7 linked regions of the Homo sapiens genome follow. The protein of the gene in region 5 purifies or fractionates together with the protein of the main gene of each other region. This does not show direct contact. Each region holds a gene or a part of one and is shown on either strand. Other genes may lie near its edges.

Evidence for each region.
Region 1: the proteins of ATP4A (region 5) and ACSL1 purify together in Homo sapiens (affinity purification with mass spectrometry, with the first as the bait; one study listed by BioGRID). This does not show direct contact.
Region 2: the proteins of ATP4A (region 5) and EPHX1 purify together in Homo sapiens (affinity purification with mass spectrometry, with the first as the bait; one study listed by BioGRID). This does not show direct contact.
Region 3: the proteins of ATP4A (region 5) and SLC12A2 purify together in Homo sapiens (affinity purification with mass spectrometry, with the first as the bait; one study listed by BioGRID). This does not show direct contact.
Region 4: the proteins of ATP4A (region 5) and CA9 purify together in Homo sapiens (affinity purification with mass spectrometry, with the first as the bait; one study listed by BioGRID). This does not show direct contact.
Region 6: the proteins of ATP4A (region 5) and KCNE2 purify together in Homo sapiens (affinity purification with western blotting, with the first as the bait; one study listed by BioGRID). This does not show direct contact.
Region 7: the proteins of ATP4A (region 5) and SLC26A9 purify together in Homo sapiens (affinity purification with mass spectrometry, with the first as the bait; one study listed by BioGRID). This does not show direct contact.

Annotation. Positions count from the first base shown.
Region 1 is NC_000004.12:184,815,969-184,819,468, forward strand, and holds part of ACSL1 (long-chain-fatty-acid--CoA ligase 1), read right to left. Parts: intron 1-3,500. UniProt on the Homo sapiens protein: Catalyzes the conversion of long-chain fatty acids to their active form acyl-CoAs for both synthesis of cellular lipids, and degradation via beta-oxidation. Preferentially uses palmitoleate, oleate and linoleate.
Region 2 is NC_000001.11:225,830,624-225,834,123, forward strand, and holds part of EPHX1 (epoxide hydrolase 1), read left to right. Parts: intron 1-1,155; coding exon 1,156-1,336; intron 1,337-3,500. UniProt on the Homo sapiens protein: Biotransformation enzyme that catalyzes the hydrolysis of arene and aliphatic epoxides to less reactive and more water soluble dihydrodiols by the trans addition of water.
Region 3 is NC_000005.10:128,184,766-128,187,471, reverse strand, and holds part of SLC12A2 (solute carrier family 12 member 2), read right to left. Parts: exon of another isoform or gene 2,684-2,706; coding exon 2,616-2,683; intron 977-2,615; coding exon 841-976; 3' UTR 1-840. UniProt on the Homo sapiens protein: Cation-chloride cotransporter which mediates the electroneutral transport of chloride, potassium and/or sodium ions across the membrane. Plays a vital role in the regulation of ionic balance and cell volume.
Region 4 is NC_000009.12:35,679,294-35,681,659, forward strand, and holds the end of CA9 (carbonic anhydrase 9 precursor), read left to right. Parts: coding exon 1-49; intron 50-560; coding exon 561-705; intron 706-819; coding exon 820-846; intron 847-1,459; coding exon 1,460-1,541; intron 1,542-1,671; coding exon 1,672-1,732; 3' UTR 1,733-1,866; downstream 1,867-2,366. UniProt on the Homo sapiens protein: Catalyzes the interconversion between carbon dioxide and water and the dissociated ions of carbonic acid (i.e. bicarbonate and hydrogen ions).
Region 5 is NC_000019.10:35,557,159-35,560,658, reverse strand, and holds part of ATP4A (potassium-transporting ATPase alpha chain 1), read left to right. Parts: intron 1-43; coding exon 44-296; intron 297-585; coding exon 586-854; intron 855-1,467; coding exon 1,468-1,666; intron 1,667-1,972; coding exon 1,973-2,082; intron 2,083-2,162; coding exon 2,163-2,297; intron 2,298-2,811; coding exon 2,812-3,004; intron 3,005-3,500. UniProt on the Homo sapiens protein: The catalytic subunit of the gastric H(+)/K(+) ATPase pump which transports H(+) ions in exchange for K(+) ions across the apical membrane of parietal cells.
Region 6 is NC_000021.9:34,367,006-34,369,443, reverse strand, and holds part of KCNE2 (potassium voltage-gated channel subfamily E member 2), read right to left. Parts: intron 1-2,438. UniProt on the Homo sapiens protein: Ancillary protein that functions as a regulatory subunit of the voltage-gated potassium (Kv) channel complex composed of pore-forming and potassium-conducting alpha subunits and of regulatory beta subunits.
Region 7 is NC_000001.11:205,936,957-205,940,456, forward strand, and holds part of SLC26A9 (solute carrier family 26 member 9), read right to left. Parts: intron 1-3,500. UniProt on the Homo sapiens protein: Ion transporter that can act both as an ion channel and anion exchanger.

The sequences.
Region 1 (3,500 bases), on a different chromosome or scaffold from region 5:
AAATTAGCCAGGCGTGATGGCACACACCTGTAGTCCCGGCTACTCGGAGGCTGAGGCAGGAGAGTCGATTGAACCTGTGGGGGGCGCAGCGGCAGTGAGCCAAGATGGCACCACTGCGCTCCAGCCTGGACAACAGAGACGCCATCCAAAAGAAAAAAAAAAAAGCAGACATGAATGGAATCTAGAAGATAATCACAGGCTATGAGGTTCCCCAGGACTGGACGCAGCCTGCAAAAAACATGGGACCCTGTTCTGGCCTCTGAATTGTGCCTGTCATGTGGAAGACCTCAGTGGTGTTGGAGGAAGCAACAAGTGAAATAGGGAAAAGGTTAACCAGGATTTAGCTCATCGTATTGGGAAGGAGAAGAGAGGTACTGGTGACAACCACGAGACATGAGCTAAAATTACACAAAGAGCTCAGGTAACTATAAAAAGAGGTGACTGGCTCTGGGGAAGCCAAAATCAAAACAAACCTAACAAGTTGCAGAAGATTATAGAATAATGACCAGTGTTTAAAAGACAGAAAGAAAAAGAGACTATGCAGTTCGGCCATTACCTGCTCGGAATGGGTGATACTAGTTTGGGGTCTCTATATTCCCTTTATGTTTCACTTAAAATTTATTATGAAAATTCAAATCTATTCAAAAGTAGACACAGAAGTATAATAAAACTATATTTTATGTACCCGTGACTCCAACTTCAGCTTCAGTAATGATCAACGTTTTGCTGTTTCATTATACCCACTTCTTAAAAAATTACTTTAAGTTACATCCCAACACCCTGTCTCTCAGGTGACATTTCTGAGGCCTCCACGGCTCTATGGTTCTACCGCGTGGGGGTATCATGTGCAGGACAGTAAAACTGACTGGCATGTAGGCTGCATCTTGCCAACTGCCCAAAGGTTTAAACAAAAGGAGGCAACCTGAATATTGACTTGAAGCATCCAACTCAGCATAATACTTAATTATCATGCAAGAAAAACGCCCATATATTCAATTTGCAAATATTGAGGATATGCAAGTCAGCTCCAGCCTCAGGGGATATGATAGTAAACAAAAGAGAAAAAAATAAAACCCTGATCCCAATGAGGCTTCCACACTGCTAAGTTTTGGGACCAGAGACAAAACATACTCTGGAGTTAACCTGACTCTCCTTAAGTCACAGGCCTATTTGACATGAATCACAACCTAGCCAGAGAGCAGTTTCTATTCCCCTTTAATTGACAAATTCTTTCCTTTTTAAAAAATGGCATTCAGAGGTCTCTCATGATACTGGTGCTAGAGAAGGAGTTAACTTTCTGGTTCTCTAGACTTCTGATGATGTACCCCAATAAATAAATGCACCCCTCACATTAAATGCTTTTATCTATAAACCATATACAAGTATTTTCTGACCATTAGAAAACACACAAATATGAATTTAAAAGATGGCCAAAAAATAACTATCCATAGAAGTTCTAATGTTTCTATTCTATTCTACAATCTAATGGATGGTCTAGGCAGCCACTATGGGGCATACACCCCACTCTGGAGACAGTCCTTCCATCTCCTGAGCAGCCCTGCAGCCTCTTTGGTGGCTTGCCTGCCTTGTGTCTCCATCTGTTCCCCACCATGGGCAACAATGCATGAAACTGCTAATGGAGGCACCCTGAAATGCGTGCCACACCTGGGAGGCAGAGGGACAGTGCCTGCAAAAGCCTGCAAAAAGGGACTGTCACATCAAAGAGGGAGGAAAAGACACTCAGCATCACCCAGTGATGAAGGGAAGCATGCCAGAGAGAGCAGGACGCTACTGGTGACCGTCGCCTGGCCTGCCTGAGAGGGTGAAGAGACTGAGCCGGCCTCTCTGCAGGACAGAGAGGCTTGAGGCCGAGACCCACGCCAGGCTCCAGGGCTGGCCTCCTCTGAAGGTCTGTCCTGGACACCCTGAAGCTTCAGCCCTGACCCCAAGGACAAGGATCTTCACCCTGCCTGAACTCTAGGGAGGTCTTGGCATCGGCAGAGTTTGCCTCTGACTCACATCAGGAGAGAAAAGCACAGACTGGCTGTCTTCAGAGTCTAACCTGGGAGTCTGGGCTGCTCAGCCACCCCCTCAAGAACTCAGTTCCGTCCACTGTGAGGTGCCTGGCTGGGCTGCTTGACAGATAAGGTCCCCCGCCAGCTCCCCATCCTGGGATGCCTCAGAAGCTTGCCTGAGGCGCAATGTAGGTAACTGTCCTACAGAAGGAACAATGAGCCATTTGACCATTTCACTAGTGGCACAGAAACAAGGGGCAATTTGAACACAAGAATACCAGGTAAAGGAAGACTACAGTAGAGTTATGTAACATTAGCTGGAGCTCAACACTAATCTCCTCCCCTCTCACACCCTGCAAAGACCACAGCCACCTGCTTCTCCAACACAAGTGAAACTACACGGAAAGAAACACCTCAGATGTACTCCGAAACACAAACTTCACTCAGTGAAAGCACAGGCTTAGGTCCACAGACTTTCGATGCCTTGATCTTGGCTATAAGATCTACGTTTTGCACAGTATCAGAATAGACAAACCTGGAACATTACAATGTATATTCTTGTTAGGGACCACCTTCTATGGGACATCTGACCATCGGAACCTGCCCTACCCTCAATCCATCATTAGATAATCTTACATGCTTACTAGCGGTAAGGCCCTGTATTAAACGCTGCTGAAAACACAGAGATGACAATGACTAGGTCTCCCATGTGCCCAGAGCTTAGAGTGTGGCTGGGGTGCCAATCTGTGGAAGCCAGATATGCACTCATGAAAAGATGCACGTGGGACAGAGGCTGGGATGCTCATCAAAATATTTAATAGCCAGTACGGCCAGACACCAACCAGCCAGAAAAGACACAGGCCAGTGCACCAAAACAGGGCTCCAAAGTTCCTCTACTGCCCCATGTATTAACCCTTTAGTTTCCATATGAAGGGCGGGGGCACTTGGGTAGCAGCTATTCTCTAGCCAGGATGGGAGTATTTCGATATTTTAACCACTAGCATGATCGCTGGTGCATCTACAGCTGAATGACAGTGAGTGTAGGTGAGGAAGGGGAGAGTCACTCCAGGAAAAGTGCCTCTGAGGAGCAGGGCTCTGTGGGACAAGGAATGGCATTCCAAATAGGCCAACATGGGCATCGTACCATTTAGATGTACTTTTTTTTTTTTTTTTTTTGGAGACAGAGCCTCACTCTATACCCCAGGCTGGAGTGCAATGGCACGATCTTGGCTCACTGCAACCTCTGCCTCCCAGGCTCAAGGGATTCTCCTGCCTCAGCCTCCTGAGTAGCTGGGATTACAGGCGCCTGCCACCACACCTGGCTAATTTTTGTATTTTTAGCAGAGACAGGGTTTCACCATGTTGTCCAGGCTGGTCTCGAACTCCTGACCTCAGATGATCCACCTGCCTTGGCCTCCCAAAGTGCTGAGATTACAGGCGTGAGCTACCACACCCAGCCTAGATGTACTCAACACAAACTTTATC
Region 2 (3,500 bases), on a different chromosome or scaffold from region 5:
CTGGCTAATTTTTGTATTTTTAGTAGAGATGGGGTTTCGCCATGTTGGCCAGGCTGGTCTCGAACTCCTGACTTCAAGTGATCCACCTGCCTTGGCCTCCCAAAGCACTGGGATTACAGGCGTGAACCACCGTGCTGGGCCTGGCCTGTAATTTTTATCCCAACTCAGTTATAATGTATCATTCAATGTTGTATATCAGGGGTCAGGAAACCAGGCCCATAGACCAAATGTAGCCTGCTACCTGTTTTAGCACAGCGCCCATGCCAAGAATAGTGTTTACCTCTTTAAATAGTTAGGGGGAAAAAAATCAAAAGAAGAATAATAGTTTGTGACGTGAAAATTATATAGCAGTCAGATTTCAGTGTCCATAAATTTTTATTGGAACACAGCCACCCCCATTCATCTGTGCATTGGCTATGGCTGTCCATAAATAAAGTTTTATTGGAACACAGCCACCCCCATTCATCTGTGCATTGGCTGTGGCTGCTTTCACACTATGAAGACAGTGGAGTCACTGCAGCCTGCAAAGCCTAGAATATTTACTATCTGGCCCTTTACAGAAAAAGTTTGCCGACTCCCGCTGTAGAGACGCCTGGGTAAATTAAAGATGAGTATCGTGTATACACTTAAAGAGTAAAAGATGAGCTGGGCGCAGTGGCTTACACCTGTAATCCCACCACTTTGGGAGGCCAAGGCAGACAGATCACTTGAAGCCAGGAGTTCAAGACCAGCCTGGCCAACATGGCAAAACCCCGTCTCTACTAAAAATGCAAAAATTAGCCGGACATGGTGGCTCACACCTGTAATCCCAGCTACTCTGGGAGCTGAGGCATGACTGGCTTGAACCTGGGAGGTGGGGGTTGCAGTGGGCCGAGATCACGCCACTGCCCTCCAGCCTGGGCAACAGAGTGAGACCCTATCTCAAAAAAAAAAAAAGAAAAAAGAAAAAAGAAATGCGAAGTCTACAGTGAAGAAGGAAGAAGTGAAGAACACATCCGCTTTGGGAGTAGCCAGTGATGTGGGAAACTGCCTTGCCACTCCCAGAGGGCAGTATCTTGTGGCTGCAGGGTTTGCTGTGTTTTCTGGAAACAGACTTTGCTCTTGTGCTCTGTCCTTCCCATCCCTCTCAACTTGGGGTCCTGAATTTTGCTCCAGGACTTACACCAGAGGATCGATAAGTTCCGTTTCACCCCACCTTTGGAGGACAGCTGCTTCCACTATGGCTTCAACTCCAACTACCTGAAGAAAGTCATCTCCTACTGGCGGAATGAATTTGACTGGAAGAAGCAGGTGGAGATTCTCAACAGATACCCTCACTTCAAGACTAAGATTGAAGGTATGTTTGCAAAACGCCAGCCAGAGAGGGATGTATGTCATGAGAACAGCCTTCTTCCACAATGTGACTTACAGTCAGATAAAGTTGGAGAGATTCAGAACCCAATTATAGGTGACTGAGATGTACTTATACGTTGTAACCTTACTAAATGCAAAAATATTGCAGTCACAACAAATCTGTCCATCTTTAGAGCTAGGCAGGAACACATACATGCAATTTAAAAACCAAAGAAATGCACCATCCAGTCCAATGATGTGGCAATCTTTGAGAGGAAGGATGGAGATGAGATTTAGACCCAGGCCAAGTGGGGTGGCTCAGAACTGTAATCCCAGCACTTTGGGAGGCTGAGGTGGGTAGATCACGAGGTCAAGAGTTCAAGCAGCCTGGCCAAGATGGTGAAATCCCATCTCTACTAGAAATACAAAAAATAGCCAGGTGTGTTGGCAGGCAGCTGTAATCCCAGCTACTCTGGAGGCTGAAGCAGAGAATTGCTTGAAGCCAGGAGGCGGAGGTTGCAGTGAGCCAAGATCGCGCCACTGCACTCCAGCCTGGGCTCCATCTCAAAGAAAGAAAAGACTCTGCTCTCAGTTCTTTTGGATCTATACTCAGAAGTGGACTTGTTGGATCATACGGTAATTCTGCGTTTAATTTTCTGAGGAACCGCCATACTGCGTTCCGCAGCAGCTGCACCATTTTACTTTCCCACCCAACAATGCCTCAGAATCCCGATTCTCCAAATCCTTGCCAATATTTTTTTCCTTTCTTTTTTTCGGTAATGGTCATCCTAATGGGTATGAAATGGTATCACATTGTGGTTTTGAGTTGCATTTTCCTAATGATTACTGATGTTGAGCATTTTTTATGCGGTACTTATTGGATTCTTTGTAATTTCTCCGAAGAAATGTCTGTTCATGTCTTTTGTCCATTTTTTGGGTGTTTTATTAGGGTTTAGGAGTTCTCTATATATTCTGAATAAAATCTCTTATATTTGCAAATGTTTTCTCCCACTCTGTGGGTTGCCATACAATTAATCTTTTTCAGAGACAAGGTCTTGCTGTGTTGCTCAGGCTGGAGTGCAGCGGCTATTCACAGGCGTGATCATGGCTCACCACAGCCTCGAACTCCTGGGCTCAAGCAATCCTCTCGCCTCAGACCTCCTGAATAGCTGGTACTATAGGCGAGCACCACTGTGCCCAGCTTGTTAATTTTTTATATTGAAGAAATTGTACATGTTAGGAATCTTATTTTTAATGTTTTAAGATAATTTGGCCTTTTCAAGGAACAGTGAAGATTTTAATTTGTTAAAATTCTAGGAATTACTTAAAGTGTATGAAAGACATGTTGGTCAGTCAGATAAACTAAAGTTCCTAAAAAAAGGAAATTGAAATTATAGTGTTAACTGGGTGTGGTGGCATGCACCTGTAGTCCCAGCTACTCAGGAGGCTGAGGCAGGAGGATTGCTTGAGCCCAGGAATTCAAGGCTGCAGTGAGCTACAAGGACACCACTGCACTGGGTGACAGATCAAGACCCCATCTCTTAAAAAAAGAGAGAGAGGCTGGGCACGGTGGCGCACGCCTGTAATCCCAGCACTTTGGGAGGCTGAGGCAGGTGGATCACGAGGTCAGGAGGTTGAGACCATCGTAGCTAACACGGTGAAATCCTGTCTCTAATAAAAATACAAAAAATTAGCCAGGTGTGGTGGCGGGTGCCTGTAGTCCCAGCTACTCGGGAGGATGAGGCAGGAGAATGGCGTGAACCCAGGAGATGGAGCTTGTGGTGAGCTGAGATCACACCACTGCACTCCAGCCTGGGCGACAGAATGAGACTCTGTCTTTAAAAAAAAAAAAAAAAAACAGGCTGGGCGCCGTGGCTCACGCCTGTAATCCCAGCACTTTGGGAGGTCAAGGCGGGCAGATCACAAGGTCAGGAGATCGAGACCATCCTGGTCTAACTTGGTGAAACCCCGTCTCTACTAAAAATACAAAAAATTAGCCGGGCGTGGTGGCAGGCGCCTGTGGTCCCAGCTACTTGGGAGGCTGAGGCAGAAGAATAGCGTGAACCCGGAAGGCGGAGCTTGCAGTGAGCCCAGATTGCGCCACTGCACTCCAGCCTGGGTGACAGGGCAAGACTCTGTCTCAAAAAAAAAAAAAAGAAAAAAAAAAA
Region 3 (2,706 bases), on a different chromosome or scaffold from region 5:
TAAATTAGGACAGTTTTCTCTCCAAATAAATATAAATGATCTTGAGTATTTTTGTTTAAAGAATGACGTGATTTTTAAGCATGGTATATAGAAGTATGGGATGAATCTTCAATCTTCCCTAAGGTTTCAATAAATAATAATAAATATAGTAATAATAGCCAATCAGAGGGGTTAAAAAGGTATTTGGGGGGGCTTTTTTTCCTAGCTCTATATTCACATATACTCATATAAACCTTACCATGGGGTTACTTTTTGGTTACCATTTCCCCTTCCCCATTTTTGATTAACCTGCCCTAATTCTCACCTTTAATATCTAACAGATACCTTTATAGAATTAACAAAACACATACAGTACTCAACACTAAATGGTCAATGGAAGAAGACAAGCAGTGTTCATTTTGTTTTAAAGTGGAAGAGACTAGAAATAAAAACAGTTGAAGGCAAAGTTTGACATTCTATAAGTTTATAAAAGAGGATATATGGATGAAATTTGGTTAATTTCAGAAGGCACCTCAAGGCTAAAGGCTTTTTGTACTTCTTTCATCAATCAAAAAGTTAACACGCTTTTATTGCTATTCAAGTAGCAAAGGAAAACTACTCTCACAAACTTCAGTTCAACAGAGAAGAATCACCATTAAGATTGAGATATGGAATTGACTAAAACCGAAGTCTCCATACACGTTATCAATGGAGCAACTTTCCTGTGTGCTTTCAAATTAATGAAATCGTGAAAGAAAAGTCACCATTCGCCATTGTGATGTTAATGTGTCATTGAAGATTTCAGTTACTACACTAGGCACTGAAGTACCATTCTGGAGGGCTGTCCACTGTATAGAACATTTATGAATAGAAGGTAAGGACACTCTGATGATTCCCACGAACTAGGAGGATTGGTGGTAGGTCCTTAGATAGAGCTTCTAACCATGCCATGTAGAGAGCACTAGACACAGCACCTTTTCGTGCAACTGGGAGACTCCTGGTATCAAAAAGAGAAAAAGAAAAAAAAAAAACCCTGAGCAATGCATTTACAGAATAAAATGTAGCAAAAATTATAAAGTAGATTACAATAACAGTTACTGTAAATTACTATAATTACAGAATATTTCTGAGTGCAGGAGAATTCTGCAAATAGAATAACAACCACAGTTGTGTTGCTTAGCGATGGAGACGCATTTCTCAGAACTTACTGTCAGGCAATTTTGCCCTCGTGAAAACATCACAGGAGTACTTACACAAACCTAGATGGTATAGCCTACTACACATCTAGGCTATATGACACAGCCTGTTGCTCCTAAGCTACAAACCTGTATAGTACGTTACTGTAGTGAATACTATAGGCAACTGTAACACGATGGTAAGCATTTGCATATCTAAATACAGAAAAGATACAGTAAAAATATATATATATTTTTTTAAGAGAGATGGGGTCTTAATACATTGCCCAGGCTGGACTCAAAACTCCAAAACTCCAGATCTCAAGCAATCCTCCCACCTCAGTCTCCCAAGTAGCTGAGACTACAGGTGCACACCACCATGCCCAGCTTAACATATGGTATTATAATCTTATGGTACCACCATCATATATGCATATATAAAAGACTATAATCTTTCAACAAAAGATTTTTCAAAATTTGTTCATAAGAACAGTAAGTATTTCTATAAACCACAGTACCTCTGATATCTAACACTAAATCCTAGGTTTCCCCTTCTTTAATAAGAATAGAATTCTTTTAGGTGAAAGGTATGTTTACTATCAAAATTTAGAAAACAGAAGCTATATATGGATAAATGCAATTTTTATCTTCTCTTAGTTTTAATTTCTATTTATGGATGGTGGCAGCAGTGACCAATTGCTGTATAGTTTTTCTCTAAATTTCTATGTTTTGGTGTCTTTTCCATTTACAGGTATTTGATTATCATCAGCAAAACTTGAAACTTTTTGATTTATTGAATGTTGTTAAACTAACAATCTTTTGGTAGTTTTTTTCATTACTTGGCTTTTTTTGTGGGGGAGAGGCCTGAGCTTTCCTATCTAAGGACACATGTTCCAGAACTCAGAAAATGTGGGTTCAAAGAATAGCTAACCTAGTTCAGTAGAGGAAGAGCCAAAGTAGGCATTTAGTATCATATTTAACTCAAGGACAATGTGTCTGTATGTAAAATTTGCGTGTTGGAAACATAAGAATGGGGATCCAGATAGGAATCACTATTCAAGTTTAATCTGCCAAATAACATTTTTTGAATTATTTTCAAGAGGAAGCTGTCCGGGGCCCAAATTTTAACGTAGGACCCTCCTATCCACACGTGCTTAACGGCTATGCTGTAGTGTTTACAAAGATAAGGAATTTTAAAAAGGTGAGAAGAAGGGTAAACAAAAGGTTCCAATATAACCTACTATGATAAAAAGATTACTTGGGATTCATATAAGCATAAGGTTAAAGTTTTTGTCTTTCTCCATATGCTTAAAGCATAGTATATTTTTACAAGTTTGTTTTTTCCTCCTTATAACCACTAAGTCAATATGGGTGTTATATAGATATGTACTTGGAATAGAAATTAATTCAAAGCATATTATCATAAATTAGCAAGAAAATCTTTATAAAGATATTACTTACATGACAATAATATTAGCTGTGCTTGAATGTTCCTTTAATAACTCATTTAACCTGATCTGCCGGTATGTCTGAAATGAAACAGGACAGTCAT
Region 4 (2,366 bases), on a different chromosome or scaffold from region 5:
TGTCATCTGGACTGTGTTTAACCAGACAGTGATGCTGAGTGCTAAGCAGGTGGGCCTGGGGTGTGTGTGGACACAGTGGGTGCGGGGGAAAGAGGATGTAAGATGAGATGAGAAACAGGAGAAGAAAGAAATCAAGGCTGGGCTCTGTGGCTTACGCCTATAATCCCACCACGTTGGGAGGCTGAGGTGGGAGAATGGTTTGAGCCCAGGAGTTCAAGACAAGGCGGGGCAACATAGTGTGACCCCATCTCTACCAAAAAAACCCCAACAAAACCAAAAATAGCCGGGCATGGTGGTATGCGCCTAGTCCCAGCTACTCAAGGAGGCTGAGGTGGGAAGATCGCTTGATTCCAGGAGTTTGAGACTGCAGTGAGCTATGATCCCACCACTGCCTACCATCTTTAGGATACATTTATTTATTTATAAAAGAAATCAAGAGGCTGGATGGGGAATACAGGAGCTGGAGGGTGGAGCCCTGAGGTGCTGGTTGTGAGCTGGCCTGGGACCCTTGTTTCCTGTCATGCCATGAACCCACCCACACTGTCCACTGACCTCCCTAGCTCCACACCCTCTCTGACACCCTGTGGGGACCTGGTGACTCTCGGCTACAGCTGAACTTCCGAGCGACGCAGCCTTTGAATGGGCGAGTGATTGAGGCCTCCTTCCCTGCTGGAGTGGACAGCAGTCCTCGGGCTGCTGAGCCAGGTACAGCTTTGTCTGGTTTCCCCCCAGCCAGTAGTCCCTTATCCTCCCATGTGTGTGCCAGTGTCTGTCATTGGTGGTCACAGCCCGCCTCTCACATCTCCTTTTTCTCTCCAGTCCAGCTGAATTCCTGCCTGGCTGCTGGTGAGTCTGCCCCTCCTCTTGGTCCTGATGCCAGGAGACTCCTCAGCACCATTCAGCCCCAGGGCTGCTCAGGACCGCCTCTGCTCCCTCTCCTTTTCTGCAGAACAGACCCCAACCCCAATATTAGAGAGGCAGATCATGGTGGGGATTCCCCCATTGTCCCCAGAGGCTAATTGATTAGAATGAAGCTTGAGAAATCTCCCAGCATCCCTCTCGCAAAACAATCCCCCCCCTTTTTTTAAAGATAGGGTCTCACTCTGTTGCCCAGGCTGGGGTGTTGTGGCACGATCATAGCTCACTGCAGCCTCGAACTCCTAGGCTCAGGCAATCCTTTCACCTTAGCTTCTCAAAGCACTGGGACTGTAGGCATGAGCCACTGTGCCTGGCCCCAAACGGCCCTTTTACTTGGCTTTTAGGAAGCAAAAACGGTGCTTATCTTACCCCTTCTCGTGTATCCACCCTCATCCCTTGGCTGGCCTCTTCTGGAGACTGAGGCACTAGGGGCTGCCTGAGAACTCGGGGCAGGGGTGGTGGAGTGCACTGAGGCAGGTGTTGAGGAACTCTGCAGACCCCTCTTCCTTCCCAAAGCAGCCCTCTCTGCTCTCCATCGCAGGTGACATCCTAGCCCTGGTTTTTGGCCTCCTTTTTGCTGTCACCAGCGTCGCGTTCCTTGTGCAGATGAGAAGGCAGCACAGGTATTACACTGACCCTTTCTTCAGGCACAAGCTTCCCCCACCCTTGTGGAGTCACTTCATGCAAAGCGCATGCAAATGAGCTGCTCCTGGGCCAGTTTTCTGATTAGCCTTTCCTGTTGTGTACACACAGAAGGGGAACCAAAGGGGGTGTGAGCTACCGCCCAGCAGAGGTAGCCGAGACTGGAGCCTAGAGGCTGGATCTTGGAGAATGTGAGAAGCCAGCCAGAGGCATCTGAGGGGGAGCCGGTAACTGTCCTGTCCTGCTCATTATGCCACTTCCTTTTAACTGCCAAGAAATTTTTTAAAATAAATATTTATAATAAAATATGTGTTAGTCACCTTTGTTCCCCAAATCAGAAGGATGGTATTTGAATTTCCTATTACTGTTATTAGCACGAATTTAGTGGTAATGCATTTATTCTATTACAGTTCGGAGGTCAGCAGTCAGATGTCAGTAGGGCTTGTTCCTCCTTCCACACATCACTCCAATCTCTTGCTCCCATTGTCACAACTCCTACCTCCACATTTGACCTCCTTGTCTCCTCAAGAACCCTTGGGATTACACTGGGCCTAACTAGATAACCAAGGATAATCATCCCATCTCAAAATCTTAATCACCAAGTTTCTTCCCATGTAAGATAAGAACAATGCACAGGATTAGAACATGGACATCTTTGGAGAAGGGGAATTATTCTGCCTACCACAGATGCTATCAGGAAGAGGACAGAAATGACTGATACTGTTGGGATGGCTGTGTGTGTGTGTGTGTTTGTGTGTGTGTGCAGTGTATGTGTTGAGGGGTAGGGCAGACAGCAGCCCTAGGCT
Region 5 (3,500 bases):
CCCCACCCCCGTCCACCTCAACTTTGGTGCCCCTGCCCCGCAGCAAGCCACTGTCATCCGCGATGGAGACAAATTCCAGATCAACGCTGACCAACTGGTGGTGGGCGACCTGGTGGAGATGAAAGGTGGGGACAGAGTGCCCGCCGACATCCGCATCCTGGCGGCCCAGGGCTGCAAGGTGGACAACTCCTCGCTGACAGGGGAGTCTGAGCCACAGACCCGCTCACCCGAGTGCACGCACGAGAGCCCTCTGGAGACCCGCAACATCGCCTTCTTCTCCACCATGTGCCTTGAGGGTCTGTGAAGCCCCCGCCTGCCTGCCCAGTAACTGCTGCCTCCACTGGCCTCTCTCCTGCTATCTTCTAGGACAGGGGGCTTCAGCCTCCCTGTCTCTCTCCTGCATGACTGCCACCTCCCCGTGACTGCCACCTCCCCAGGGCACACTGCTTCTCTGTCTCCCACTGTCACTACCCTCTCCCAGGTCACATCCTCCACTGGCAGTGACTGGCTGTCCTTCAGCTCACACGGCAGTGCACACCCCACTGCCGCCCCCTATCCCTGAGTCGCGCCTTGGCCCCCCTGCAGGCACCGTGCAGGGCCTGGTGGTGAACACGGGCGACCGCACCATCATTGGGCGCATCGCATCGCTGGCGTCGGGGGTGGAAAACGAGAAGACACCCATCGCTATCGAGATCGAGCATTTTGTGGACATCATCGCGGGCCTGGCCATTCTCTTCGGTGCCACATTTTTTATTGTGGCCATGTGCATTGGCTACACCTTCCTGCGGGCCATGGTCTTCTTCATGGCCATCGTGGTGGCCTATGTGCCTGAGGGGCTGCTGGCCACTGTCACAGTGAGTGGGGGCAGGCGGGGATGCAGGGAGCTGAGGGGCCTGCTCAACCATCTGTTCTTTCCTCCACATTTCCCCCATCACCTCCCTGCCTGTCTATCTGTCCACTTAGCTCCCATCCATTCTCCTGCCTTCCCATCATCCACTCATTCAGCAAGTCCTTCCCGAGGCAACCCTGGGGCAAGTCCTGTGCCACACATTGAGGGCGCAGAGATGACGAGGCCGGGTCCTTAACTGGAAGAGGCTGATGTCCTGTGCAGGCAGCCAGCATGTCACCAGACCTTCCACAGTCAGCACCCAGCTCCAGACCAGTCCCCAGGGAGGTGCGGGGAAGGTTCCTCTTCTCATTTTGATTGTGTGAAGAGAATTTTCAGAACCTCGGCTGGGACAGCTCAGAGAGGGGCCTCGCTACTGTATCTGGGCAGACTGGGGAAGGAGTCCCAAACAAAGCACTGGCTGAACAAAAGCTGGGGCCAAGAAAACACCTGGTGTTTGCAGAAGCACGTTGCACACGCAGCCCCGCGGCTGGGGTAAAGCCTTCCCCGTTCTTTGACGCGGGGAAGAGGACTGGAAGCCAGGGTGGGTCCCCAGCCTGCGGTGCTCACCCCTTCCCCAGGTCTGCCTGTCCCTGACAGCCAAGCGCCTGGCCAGTAAGAACTGCGTGGTCAAGAACCTGGAGGCGGTGGAGACATTGGGCTCCACTTCGGTGATCTGCTCGGACAAGACAGGGACTCTCACTCAGAACCGCATGACTGTGTCCCATCTGTGGTTTGACAACCACATCCACACAGCTGACACCACGGAAGACCAGTCAGGTGTGGGGGAGGGAGGGCACAGGCGCCAGGGCAGGATCTGGTGGATGGTGGAGACCTGAAGAGGGATAGGGAGGTAGGGAGGGCTTTGTACGAAGGCGGGGCGGCTCGGCTCCAGGTCTCAAAGGAGACTCGCTACCGGGTCTAGAGGGAAGGGTCATCCGGGGGCTGGGTCCCTCAGGGTTGGGTGGAACCCAATTCCACCCAGGTCTGGGGAGGGGGCCCGCGATATGAGCCTAGGAGGAGGGGGCTCGGTTCTGGTCCGGGAGAGCCGCCGTGCGGGACCCAGCCTGGACGCCTGGTCTGCAGGGCAGACGTTTGACCAGTCCTCGGAGACGTGGCGGGCGCTGTGCCGGGTGCTCACCCTGTGCAACCGCGCCGCCTTCAAGTCCGGCCAGGATGCAGTGCCTGTGCCCAAGGTGAGAGCCAGGGGGCCTCCAGGGAATCCCGGGAGGCTGGTGTAGCCGGCTTCGCCCCTGACACCGGTCCCCGCTCCCAGCGCATCGTGATTGGAGACGCATCGGAGACGGCGCTGCTCAAGTTCTCGGAGCTGACGCTGGGCAACGCCATGGGCTACCGGGACCGCTTCCCAAAAGTCTGCGAGATACCCTTCAACTCCACCAACAAGTTCCAGGTGCGCAGCCGGCCCCGCCCACGGCCTGGGCCCGCCCACCTCGGGCCCCGCCCCAGGCCACACCCACATCAGCGGGCCACGAGGGGCTTCGCTCCTTGCCCCTTCTCTCCGCAGCCAAACCCCACCCCATCTCCCGCTCCGCCTATGGCCCCGTCCACCAGAGGCAAGGCCCCGCCCACCACCCAGCCCCGCCCACAGCTTCTCCTCGGCGGGACTGTCCATGGGGAGCACCTCGCTCTCCAAATCCGCCCCCAGCCCAACTCCGCACCCTAATTCTGTTCATTCCCTGCGTCCAGGACTCCAAATCTGCACCTAGCCCCGCCTTAACGCTTACCTTCTACCAAGGACCCCTCCACACAAGGCCTCCATCTTCCACCTTCACCCTTCCCCGCAGCTCTCAGAGCCCGCACCGAGCTCTCGGCCCCGCCCCTCTCCTCAGCCCCGCCCCGTTCCCTCGTCCACAGCCCCGCCCCGTTCCCCCGTCCACAGCCTCGCCTCTCCCCCCCGCCCACAGCTGTCCATCCATACGCTGGAGGACCCGCGGGACCCGCGACACTTGCTGGTGATGAAGGGCGCCCCCGAGCGCGTGCTGGAGCGCTGCAGCTCCATCCTTATCAAGGGCCAGGAGCTGCCGCTGGACGAGCAGTGGCGCGAGGCCTTCCAGACCGCCTACCTCAGCCTGGGAGGCCTGGGCGAACGCGTGCTCGGTGAGACCCCTGGGCAGGGGAGGAGACTCCAGGTGCGAGGAGGAGCTAGCACAGACCCTGCCCACCACTCCCGGCCCAGCCCTGACCGTCCTCATCCCTGGCTGCTGGCTGATTTGTCGCAGTCCACAGCCTCACCCTTGACTTTCCCTGTACCAGTCCTGACCCCTGTCTGTCCTCACTTTCTACCTTGACCCCAGTCCTCACCTGGACTTTTATCCGTATCCTGACCTCTAACCTCTCCCAATTTTTGTCCTGACGCCTTAAACTTCGCTGCCTCTACCCTAGAAAGCAGATCTGTGGTCCAATTCTGGGCCTTTTACTTGCTGTGTGACCTCTGGCAAGAAATGTCCCCTCTCTGAGCCTCAGTTTCCTCATCTGTAAGATGAGAATGGGCCTCACAGGGTGGTTGTGAGGGTAGATTCAGATAATGTGAGTGAAGGGGTCAGCACAAGGTCAGGCATCCATAGGTGTTTGGTGCAAGGGGCCTGGTTATTTT
Region 6 (2,438 bases), on a different chromosome or scaffold from region 5:
CAAGTAGCTGGGATTACAGGCACATGTCACCACGCCTGGCTAACTTTTGTATTTTTGGTAGAGACGGGGTTTCAACACATTGGCCAGGCTGGTCTCGAACTCCTGACTTCAGGTGATCCACCCGCCTCAGCCTCCCAAAGTGCTGGGATTACATGTGTCAGCCACCGTGCACAGCCAATGTGCCTTTTTGAAGAGGGAAATTATAGTGCAATTTGTTTGCTTTTAAAATGATGCGATGGTTGTTCTTAAAATCAAGTCCTAATTCCTTAACAGTATTTACCCCATTGGCTGAGCAGGCTCCTGACCACCTCCTCAGTTACCCTTTGCTCACTACAGTTCGGTCACACCTGACATCTTCCCTCCCTGTCAGTAAGCTCTCTTTCCTCGGGACATTATCACATCCTATTCTCTCAACCTAGAATGCCTTTGCCTTTCTCTTCCACCTGCTACCTCCTCGTTCTTTAGGTTCCAGCTAGTTGTCACTTCTGAGACTTCCCTGGTTCTACTCTAAATCACTTCCCACCACCACCACCATTTTCCTCCAACAGCATCTCCTTTTTCTTCAAAAGCACACATCACATATGCAGTCACTAAATGTGTGTGTATATATTCATATTACTTTTGTTTAAAAAAAATTGGTAACCTCACACCAGCTAGAATAATGCCATATTTATAACAAGCACTCAACAAATGTCAGTTAAATGGAGCAATGACTCATTTATATTCTGTTTTCAGAGAATTATATACGTGTGCTTTTTTATACATCTCTGTTTTTAGAGAATTGTGGGGCTTTAGACATAACATCAAGGCAAACGATTGCAAGGCAAAAATTTTTTGTTTTTTTGAGACGGAGTCTCGCTCTGTCACCCAGGCTGGAGTGCAGTGGCGCGATCTTGGCTCACTGCAACCTCTGCCTCCCAGGTTCAAGTGATTCTCCTGTCTCAGCCTCCCAAGTAGCTGGGACTACAGGCAACCGCCACTACGCCTGGCTAATGTTTTGTATTTTTAGTAGAGACGGGGTTTCGCCATGTTAGCCAGGATGGTCTCGATCTCGTGACCTCGTGATCCACCTGCCTCGGCCTCCCAAAGTGCTGAGATTACAGGTGTGAGCCACCGCTCCCGGCCAAGATTTTTTAATACATACATACATACATATATATAACATACATATATATAACATACATATATATATATATATATATATATATATATATTGTGTGTGTGTGTGTGTGTGTGTGTGTGTGTGATTATTGGTTTAGGGGCTCATCTTTTCCACTCGGCTGTCATGTCTGCCAACTTTGTCTAGCTCGGTATAGCAGATGTCTAACACATAGAAGGCACTCAATGGACATTTGATGCATGAATTAAAGTGCCAGGTACTATGCTAGGCGATGAAACTGCAGAGGTGACAGGAACTCTGTGAGAGGCTCAGTTGAATGGGAGAGACCAAATCAATGACAATGCAACGTGCAAAGAGTTGCAACAGGTATGGACAAAAAGATAAGGGGGCTCAGAAAATGGAGCTGAACACGGTTCATAGATGGGGCAAGTGGGTTTCAACACAGCTAGAAGGAGCACAGGCAGGAGGTAAACCTGTGACTAGCCACTAGTAAAAGCCCCAGGATCCCAGCAGTGGGTTTGCCTGCTGCCGTTCTAAAGACATGCCCGTCTCTTTAGCATGTGACTTTTCTTTCCTTCATGAAAAGAGAATCAGATCTCCCCATCTGGGAAAGGAATTTCAATCAGCTGAATAATCAAACCTACTAAACAAATAAACTTGCAGGCATTCTCCCACAGAACATCCCTCCCCAGGATTTTCCTCATTGAGAATTACCATCACCAAGATAATATACTCTTCTCTGTCTGATGTTTTAAGTTCTATTATTTAGAGAGCTCTAAGATCTTTGTCTCCCTCTCCTGGCCACACAGGCTAGTGGGTTGGAAGGAAACTTAACAAATAGATAAGATTGCCCCAGGGTATATACCAAGCATATTTCCTAAGCAATGTAACAGAGATGTGCTTTTTCCCCTTTAAAATGATATAGTCTGCTGTGAAAGTTAGCTGAGCTGGCTTTAATCCACTCAAGACTTTGCCACTGGCTCTTTTACCCTTTTATTTTCATTTTATTTTTTATTAACTCTTTTTTAAAATAAAAAAGTAGTGATGAGGTCTCACTATGTTGTTAAACTCCTAGGCTCAAGTGATCCCCCTGCTTCAGCCTCCCAAGGTGCTGGGATTACAGGTTTGAGCCACCATGCCAGACTTTTTTTTTTTTTTTTTTTTGAGATGGGGTCTGGCTCTGTGAGTATAGTCTTTTTCTCTTGTAGGAAGCCCAGCCGGTTGTTACCAATCCATAGTACTTTCCCTGACCTCCCCAGGTCTAGGCAGAGACCCTTTTTCTGCCCCTTCTGCAAATGACCATGTTAGTTTTGTTTTT
Region 7 (3,500 bases), on a different chromosome or scaffold from region 5:
AGAATGGTCAGCATTACTTTTCAAACCTCAGATTCTGTATCACTAAAGTGGGAGTAACAGACATATCTCACAGGGTTGTTGTGAAGATCAAATGAGTTAATGGATAAGAAGGGGTTGTGTAAAATGTAAAGTGTGATGCAAATGTGAGTTTCTATTATGAATAAGATTGTGCTCAAGTTGGTGAAGGCTGGGCTGGTGCATTCCATTCATTTGGTCTTGGGATCCCAAGGTCCACTTGAACTACAGGTGAGGGTGGGATGCCCGGCAAGACCCCACAGGTGATACCCAGCAGAAGCGAAGGTGGGAGAATGAACCTACCCCCAGCGCCTGTGCCCAGCCCCTCGCCTGGCCCTTAGTGTGTACTCAACACATACTTGTTGAGCGAATTGATAAATGGTGTTTTGGAGGAGACATGGGCAGAAATGAGTAAGGGCAATGGCATGTGAGACATTTCAGTGGGAGAAATGAGAGACCGGGTGGCTTAGGGAAAACAGCACAAGTTTGAGAGCCAGATGACCTGGGTTCAAAGATTCAGTTTCTTCATCTGTAAATGGGGATAATAACAGTCGCAGGCAGATGCTATGAGGATTCAGTGAGATCATGTGTATGAAGAGGCTGGCCTTTTATAGGCACCCAGTAAATGGTAGTGGCGATGATTACTATGATTAAGATGGGAGGGTGCTTTCTACCTCCTAGCAGAGACTATTCAGAGGCTGCCGGCCCTTCACCGCCCGTGAGGCGGGGTGGTCTCACTCTTCCTCTCCACCTGCTCCAGAGTCTGCATGGGTCTGGCTGTCCAGGTGGTTTGCCTGCGGGGGCTCAATGAGTGGGGAGCATGACCTCCCCACATAGGAACCCAGAGCTGCAGACCTTGCTTCAGAAAAAGACTCATGGTTTGGGGAGTCTAGCCCAGGCCACTAAACAGACCACTTGCAAAAAAAAAAATAGCCAAAAATTTCAAGGGGGGCTGAGTCAGAAAAGAAGAGCCCTTTGGAAGAGGAGGTGATGGGTGATCTTGCTTCCACACCAACCAGCAGGCAGCGATCCCTGAAGTATGTTCCTAGGCTGCTTTCAAAGGGTCTAAGTTCCGGTAGTGTGTTTGCGGGGAAGGGAGTTATTAGCATCTGATTCCGCTGAACCCTACTATCCCAGCCCCCGTCCCCAGGATTTCCCCACTTCCTCAGTGGTACCTTTCTTCCTGCCACCCAGCCCACCCCCATCCTTGTTCCTGTCCTCTCCCTACCCCTCAGCCTCCATATTCAGTTGTTCATCAAATCCTATTGCTATTTCCTTCCTTCCTTCCTCCCTCGCTTCCTTCCTTCCTTCCTTCATGTCCTTCTGTCCTGTCCATTGCCTCCATACCTCCACCCACCCTGTCCCATTGCCTCCCTCTTCAAGTCTTATCTCATGTTTGGACTATTGCAAAAATTGATCTGCTGGTCTCCAGCCATGCCCCTCCAACCCAGCCTAAACTCCCTGCTCCGAAACCTCTATCTCCCTCATTTCCAGGAGGATGAGGCCCAAACTCCTTATTTTGGCATTTTTGTTTTTTTATCCTCTGGCCTTGTATTGGTGGATTCAGGAAATCTGTTGGCTGGGTCCCTCCACACCATCTGGGCTGGTCTGTTCTGCACCCACCAAACAAGCCTGAGTCTCTGTTCCCACTTTCCTCCTTACCTGAGGTGCCCTGACTCATTTCTGCCTTTCTAGATCTGCCCATCCTTAAGACCTGTTGAAGTTCCTCCTCCAACCCTCTCCTTCCTCTCCCACTCTTTTCCCTTCTCCTTCTTGCCTATGAAGCCTTTCCTGACCACCTTGAAACCCTGAAGGATTTCTCTTTCTCCCAGGATCTCCATGTGCACCCCTCCAGCCTGTACACTAGTGTTGGCTTTGGCCATTTTTCTTTGGGAGGAAAGCGGCAGGGGTGGTGGAAGTCCTTCAGAGAGCAACAGGTAGGTGACTCAGGACCAGCTCTGCCCCTCTGGGCAGACTCACTGACAGATGGAGCACCAGATACTAGGGAGTCCCCTCTGACACAGGCTAACAGAGGAAAAGCCTCCCTTGCTTTACTGGAATACCAAATCTGTCTCTTTCCCATGCCATCTGCCCATCCCAGGAATAGGATGCTGAAGGGGAGAAGGCTCTGGGAGCTTTCACAATCCTGAGTTTGCATAAAGAGGAGAACCCAGCAGCCAGTCAGAGTCAGAAAGTTTTGTGTAGAAGAGAACTTGAGGACCACATTTGTCCAATTGTCTCATTTTGCAGATAAAGAAACTGCACTTGATTTAACTCCAGTGTTCCTATTCGAAGGGGCTTCAGACCTTCCAGGGACAAAGCTGATCTCAGGACAATGTTTTCCCCTGAGTGGCACTCAGAATGCCCCTTTCTGACCACCCTGGTGACCTTGCCACCCCAGCTGATGGGACAGGACCTCTGGGTTCTGTTACTCCTCTTGAGGGCTCTGGTTCCCTCCTGGCCTTGGTTTCCCAAGAATATGATGGCCAGAGTTGCAAATCTGCAGCCACAGGAACTGCCCCAGCTCCTGCTGAGAAGGCGCCCTCAACATACTTCCTAATTCCAAGAATAGGGGTTGAGGTGGGGTGGGACGTAGAAGACAAGGGTACTTCATCCCCAGCCAGCCCTTCAGGTGAGGGCAAGAGGTGGAGGGAAGGGGGATGGGAGTGGTGGAAAAGGGTGGGTGGCATGGTGGGGAGGAGGAGTCTCAGAGAACTAGCAGGGATGGGAGTCCCAGGGAATCCTCAGAGAGGGTGTCTCACGATGCCAGATGCTACATTAGGGGCAGGAAAGTGGAAGAGGGAGCAAGAAAGAGAGCCAGGTATAGGGAACATAACAATCTGATCCCCAGTTAAACAAACAAACAGCCATGATAAGTGATGTCAGCATCGCTGGAAAAAAAAGTCAAGTGCCCTATTGCCAGAGGCGTGTATCTACAAGCCCTGCCCCCACCACCCCTCCACTGCCTTCCATCCCCCTACCGGGCCAGGGATAAATAGCAGGTGCCATGTGATAATACTGAGAAACAAAAGGGTGACCCTGCCCCTCCTCCACTGTGCAGGGAAGGGGGGCAGGTCCTAAAGAGCTGGAGGGACTTAGAGGGGGTCTGTAGGGTTTAAGGGGAGTAGGGGGTGAGCCAGGAGAGCAGAGGGCAGGAGATGTGGGTGCATGGGCCACTCCCATGCACTGGCAGGAGAGTGGGTCAAATCTGGAGCAGAGGGGATGCAGGGGTCGTGCGAGCCGGAGTAGCTGGGAGAGGGGAAGCAAAGAGAAAATAGACCCTGCAGGGAGGGCACAGGCTGGAGCAGATTCCCTCTTGAGATTCTCCAGGATTTCTCCTCCAATGAGCTCATGCCAAAGCACGCCCCTGGTACCTTCTCCCAGTCACATTTCTAACCAGGTCTCTGTCAACACCATCCAAATATTGTAGGCAGAGATGGGCTTGGGCAGAGATGGGCTCAGGCAGAGACAGTGCCCGAGTGGAT